2 linked regions of the Homo sapiens genome follow. The protein of the gene in region 1 purifies or fractionates together with the protein of each later gene. This does not show direct contact. Each region holds a gene or a part of one and is shown on either strand. Other genes may lie near its edges.

Region 1 (2,595 bases):
TAAAGAGGTGGTGGGGGTGGATGGTGCTATGTTAGGAGTGGTGGTTGGTTTTAAGAGGAAAGACAGAAAAACTAAAAGGAGCTGGCCCCAGTACCACCAAGGCAAAGCCAAATTTGGCTTCAATTAAGAGCTCCACAGGAAAATTATCAACACAATGCCCAGGTGCAGAAGATCCTTGTTTTGACACGGGGTTTAAGTCGGGATGTTTTGTTCAATTGTCACTGCTTCCTTGGCTTCCCAAGAGAGCAGCTGAGCCCAGACTCAAGCTGGCTGCAGTGTTCCATCAGGCTTATGGCTTTTGTGCTTGAGGCCTCCCTGCCGCTTCATGGGTCAGGTGTGATATTCAATCACTGCCTTCTATGTAGTCTGGCCTGTCCCACCTTTATCTTGCCTGGGTGAGGATATGAAGAAGGGAACATATGACATTACCACTGTTGACTGAGTAGGAAAGTATATAGGAAGCGGGATGACAGGGAGGACCACTGGATCAGCCGCTGCAGTTCCAGACTTCAATCAACATTTTAATTACCAAGTCTATATTTAGCAAGACAATGTGGGAGAGATAAAGAGGAAGGAAGGGGTAGGTGGGGAGGGGTTCTCAAAGGAGCTGACCCATTTTCTGCATTGGCTGCAGAGCCTTGCAGTCCTGGCCAGGAGTTCTTGGCCTTGTGCCTTTCAGAAGTGCCGACAGGCATCAAGGAGGTACTTACGCAGCTACAGCTCAGTGGCAGCTGCAAACCCCATCTACGAAACATGTCATCAGGACTGTCCTTTAATAGTCTTCCTCCTCTCTGCAGCTGCGGGAAAGAGGACTGGCCAAGAATTTCAGGTGGGGTCAGTGTGACTGCAGGGTCACCGCAACAGCTTTGGCTGTGGCGTTGAGGACGGTGGTGGGAAGCCGAGCAGCAGGGAGCATGGCAGGGATGTCTCTGGGGACCCTCTGGATGGGCGGGATGTTGGGGCCCTCCAGTGTGTCCAGGATCCCTGGAAGGAAGATGGAAGGTGAGCGAGGATCAGATGGGCCCAGCCCACCAGCCATCATATCTAGCTTCTTGCTCTAGGCAGCTGCTTTCCCATTCTCCCCCACCCAGACCTTCCTGCCACTTACCCTCTACCACTTTGTGGTAGGCAAAATGCAGATAGAGCAGGAAGAGCATGTGTAGGGCAGCCAGGGTGCCACAGAGGAGCAGCCGCTGTGTGGGGCCCACGGTCCGAGACACCAACACTGCTACCTAGGACCATGAGAATACAGCTCAAAGGGCCTGGCTCCAAAGTGAGGAGTGGGGACAAGACACCCCCACCCAGGGCAGAACCATCTTTGGGCTCTTCCCTCCCATTTAGGGCTCTTTGTGAGATGGACAGCTCCAGGCTGTCTTCCCCAACTCCCTGGGAGGACAGCCCACCCCTGGAAGCCTCTTGCCCAGCTTACCATGCGCAGTGTGGACAGTCCACCCACCAACAGCCAGAAGAGGTAGAAGAGGGCGTGGAGGTGGATATTATAGGTGATGAACAGGACAATGCAATGCCCAAAGAGGCCATAGCCCTGGGAAGGAGGATGGTGGAGAGGAAAATCATTCAGGTTGGGCTGCTTTCTGGCCCCTCATGGGGACCCTGGGAAACACATGGTCCATTGGCCTACTCCTCCCATTCCAGGCTTTGGGGCCCCAGGACAGATGCCGACCAAGGCCTGGCTACTCTTTTTAACATCACTCTTGCCCACCACACCTGGCTCCTTACCAGCAGTGCCAACATCTGCAGCATGGTGATCTGGGCGTTGCACAGGTAGGCAAGGAAGTAAATGAAGGATGAGACTCCCAGCCAGTAGCCGAAGCAGGTGCCAATGGCTGTGCCCATCAGGGTGCCCTCCCGCTGTGGGGTGAAGGCTCTATTTAGTCCTAGGAGGCCTCTGATCTCAGCCTCACCTAGGGCCTTCCGCAGGGGCTGTTCCTGTCTCACTCCACCATTGTATCCTCAGGCAGCTTTCAACCTAGTGCAGCCACCCCCCCAAAGTTGTCTGTCCTGCTTACGATAATAGTGTCAGACGTCTTCATCCCATGGAGTAGGATAGCAACCAGAGTGAAGACCAGCATGAGAGGTCCATAGAGTTCACCTGCAATTTTCTGTCAATATACCAATTCATTCAGGCTGGAGGGTACAACAGCTCATCTGTTTATGGCTTCCCAGGATTTGCCTGGTGGTCCCACCCTCTGCCCTGGTGCTTCCCCCGGCTCTCCAGACATGCCACCCTCTATTCACCTGGGGGAAGTTGACCATCTTGATAGGGATCATGGACTCCAGGAGCCTGGGAGAGGAGAGGAGAGATTAAAGCAAAGGCAGCACAAGGCCATGAGGTTCTGGAGGGCAAGGCCTGAATTTTATTCATCTCTAACTCCAGGGAATGGGGCCTGGCCTAGAAGACATGTTGGATGACACGGTAGAACAGGGTAGTAAAGACAGATAGGGAATGAGGAAATCATTTCCTTGCCCCTAAAGTTACTTCCAGGAAGGACAACCCTCTGAAACTTAGCTGACTGAAACAGCAGCTATATGGAGAACTCAGCCCTACTGGGCCTTGAAGGAGGGCCCGACCATGTA
Region 2 (3,500 bases), on another chromosome or scaffold:
ATGAGAATGTAGGGCAGGAAGCGGTCGTAGGCACCTATGGCAAAGCAGACGGAGCCTCAGGCCCAGGGCTGCAGTTAGACTTGGTCTCTCATCTACCCCTTTATGCTCCCAGGACTCTGGAAGGGGATCACTTTCCTTCTTGGTCTCACATCTCTCACAGTCTGAGCAGTCAGATTAGAATCTGGCATCTAGACAGGTTTCAGAACCCAGAGCTGGCACAGGCATGCCCAGAGCCCAGCAGTGTTCCACCATGCAGGGGAGGAGTACAAAGGGGCGGTTGCAGTAGAAGAGCTGGGCCATGCTGATTATTCCTATTTCTGGGCCATGCTGATTATTCTTATTTACCAAGGTTGGGTTTCCAAGGAACCTGAGGTACTTGTCCAGGGATGGAAATAACTCTTCCACCTCTGCAGATGTGTCCCAGCCCATGTGATCTGCCTTCAGATTAGGCAGGGTGCTTTTGCTTGCTTTGAGATCTACATAGCATGTTCACAAAGCACTCTGAGTACTCTCAGGTGGGTGCCACCCTCCCTAAAGAGGTACTGGCTAGGGATGTGCAGGAAACCACAGGTGCTATGAAGACATAATTCTGAGAAGAGAAAACTGGAGACCTGCTACATAAAATGGCATGGGGTGGATCTTCACACAAGATAAAATCACTCTATAGTGCTCTAGGTTATAATAATTTTCCGTTCATCAGACCTCTTGCATGGACATCTTTCCCCTCATGTTCCTTTTAAACTCTGATTCCAAGAAATTTCTCCAACTAAGCACACTGGCTCCCTAAACCACTCTGTAGGTTCTTAGGATAAAGGAATTGTAGTCTCTGATGGAAGGCCTGGGATGGCTAAAACAGAAACAAACCCTCTAATATTCTCATCAATTTCTAGGTAATCTATAGGTTGTTTTCCATTTGAAAGTGAGGGCCAGTGCACTGGGACAAGAACCCTTCCCGGCCAAAGATCCAGTACTGGATGGAGCCCATGTACTGTATGAACTTGTTTTCCTGTTAACACGCAACCTCCAGCTCACATTCAAGCCAGTTAGTACTTCCATCCCGTTGCTCTAGTGTGCCCTTGGCTCATGGGACTTACCAAGGTAAACGAAGTAGGGAGACAGGATGCTGCCCAGGCGGGATGCTGTGGAGCTGACTCCCACACCCATGTTTCTCACCACTGTGGGATACAGCTCGGCTGTGTACACGTAGACCATGGAAAAGGCAGCCGTGACTCCAAACTTGCCCACCATCACCAGGACTGTAGCCAAATAATACAAGTCTGGAGAAGCAAAGGAAAGAGGGTAGGAGTAGGTACCAACCCATGGCATGCAGCTATTGAGAGCAAAACAAACATACTTTCTTCCCAAATTTTTTGGGGAGTCAGTTTCTATCACTTCCTATTGTGGGGGAAGGGGCTATAGCCAAGATTTCCCTCCAAATTGATTGCTGAAAGGAGGCTGGGACCTGCAGCTATAAGGACATGCACTTTCCTCAACCTGGAGACCACCAGAGTAAGCTCCTTAATAGTCCAATCAACCTGCTTCCCAGTCTATAAGTCATTAAAGACATGTCTGTCAGGGATTAACTGTCACCCCAGAACCTCACACTGCAGGCACTATGGAATTAACTCATGATGTTTAGATGAATGGAGAATTCAGTTCTAACTCATTTCATGCTTTCCTCCCACTCAGACCTCAAAAAAATCATAGGCCATCAGAATCTCAAGTTGATCTTCTAATCTCTCTGTGCTGTGCTGATGGGAGAGCTATGTGTGACCTGAAGGTCACTCTGAGCTCAGCTGTGAGCCTCTACATCAGTTCTGGGCTCCTCCTGCCACATCCCATGGGGAGCTGTTCCCGTGCAGTGTTCTCAGCCTGATGGGCCCAAAAGTGACCATCAGAGGCTCCCAAATCTACAGGTACACTGAAGTCTCTGGGCACAGTGATGGAGAGGGAGAGATGAGGGCCCATGAACTGTTCTATAAATTATTGGAAATGGCTACCTCCCACCCATCTGTGGGATACTAAGATAGTTTCAGAAATAAAATCCTGCTAAGGCTCTGTGAGGCCCTCTCAGTGGTCTGGCCCCTCCCCTTCTCCCTCCTCCTCAAACATGCCAGGCTCATCCCCTGCTCAGGGTCGCTGCCTTTGCCATTTCTTCTTCCTAAAATGTTCTCCTAGACTTTTTCAGGGCTTTCTGTCACTTTATGTACATTTCTACTGAACTGCCCCCTGTTCAGGGACACTATCTGTGACTATGTAAACTAACTCGGCATTGTCCTTCATTTGTATTCCTAGAAGGTAACACAGTCTGAACTATATTAAGCATTTTATTTACTTGTTTGTTGTCTGTCTTCTCATCTAGGGTGTACGTTCCATGAGGGCCTGGGGTTCTGCCTGGCTTGTTTTCTTGTGTATCGTTATCACCGAGCACAGTGCCCAGCCCATGGTAGGCATGCCATAGCTATTTGTTGAATAAATAAAGAAGACAGGGCCAGGAAAAAAAGGAATGGGATAGCTATTTCTTCCCTCTTCTTCTGCAGTGGAAAACAGTATGAGCACATTAACTTGGGTACAGAGTAAAATTAACCAACAGCCCCAATGGCTGCTTTTTCCCACTCCCTCAAAGCCCAGGCCATAAGTGTTCTAGTCTCAGAAGACACTTTCTATTGATTTTTAGGCCAAGAATGTATATAAGCAAGGGAGCTGTGATGGGCTTGATTTTATTCTCTTTATTAATTGAGACAGCCTGGTAGACAGTAAGAGACTCAGTGAAGACCCCAAACCATAGATGCACATGGTCCCTACCTGGGGGTACCAGCTGCATGAAGAGAAGGACACTGCCACCCAGGAAGAGGGCAGTGGCCATGGAATAGCGCCGGGGCAAATATTGCAGCAGCAGCCAGGCCAACACATATGCTGGGACTTCAACCATCGCTGAAAGGAAGCAGTTCACAAAGATGTCCCCATGCAAGTTAGGAGTATCAAGCGAAAGCCCAAAATAGCCCACTGATATGGTCATCCTGAAACAGAGTGCAGAAGAAAGCTGGAAAAGCAGTATCCACATCTTTCCCAACCTGTACAACTTTTACAATGCAATTATTTCAGTAAATTCCAAACCATCTTTAAGCAGAGACTAGTAAGGCAGCAGTAACTGTAACCCTGCGTCTTACTTCATAGATCAAAAGATAATTTTCCCCAGCCCAAGTGGTACAGTGTAAACCCTGCGCCAGTGCGCTCTCAGAGCCTTCCATATAGACAGTGTCCCAGCAAAAAAGCTTGTATAATTCAGATAGATTTACTTCATTGAAAAGAAAAATTCCAACCTGCCTTTCAGCTTTAAAAATCCTAAGCTGAACCTCCTCAAATCCAGCAACTGCAGAAGGAGCTAGAGAATGAGTCAGGAGGCAGACATCAAGTGAGGTGTGATAGGATTTGGGGGATAAGATAACAAAAGGAACAACATTAGGTCAAACACTTGGAGAGAGACCCTCACACACTAC

What was found.
Region 2: the proteins of YIPF3 (region 1) and SLC22A5 purify together in Homo sapiens (co-immunoprecipitation; 4 studies listed by BioGRID and IntAct, with this or other methods). This does not show direct contact.

The regions. Positions count from the first base shown.
Region 1 is NC_000006.12:43,511,332-43,513,926, forward strand, and holds the end of YIPF3 (protein YIPF3), read right to left. Parts: intron 2,303-2,595; coding exon 2,257-2,302; intron 2,121-2,256; coding exon 2,028-2,120; intron 1,870-2,027; coding exon 1,738-1,869; intron 1,544-1,737; coding exon 1,430-1,543; intron 1,233-1,429; coding exon 1,109-1,232; intron 985-1,108; coding exon 836-984; 3' UTR 501-835; downstream 1-500. UniProt on the Homo sapiens protein: Involved in the maintenance of the Golgi structure. May play a role in hematopoiesis.
Region 2 is NC_000005.10:132,390,210-132,393,709, reverse strand, and holds part of SLC22A5 (organic cation/carnitine transporter 2), read right to left. Parts: intron 3,021-3,500; coding exon 2,806-3,020; intron 1,278-2,805; coding exon 1,095-1,277; intron 35-1,094; coding exon 1-34. UniProt on the Homo sapiens protein: Sodium-ion dependent, high affinity carnitine transporter. Involved in the active cellular uptake of carnitine. Transports one sodium ion with one molecule of carnitine.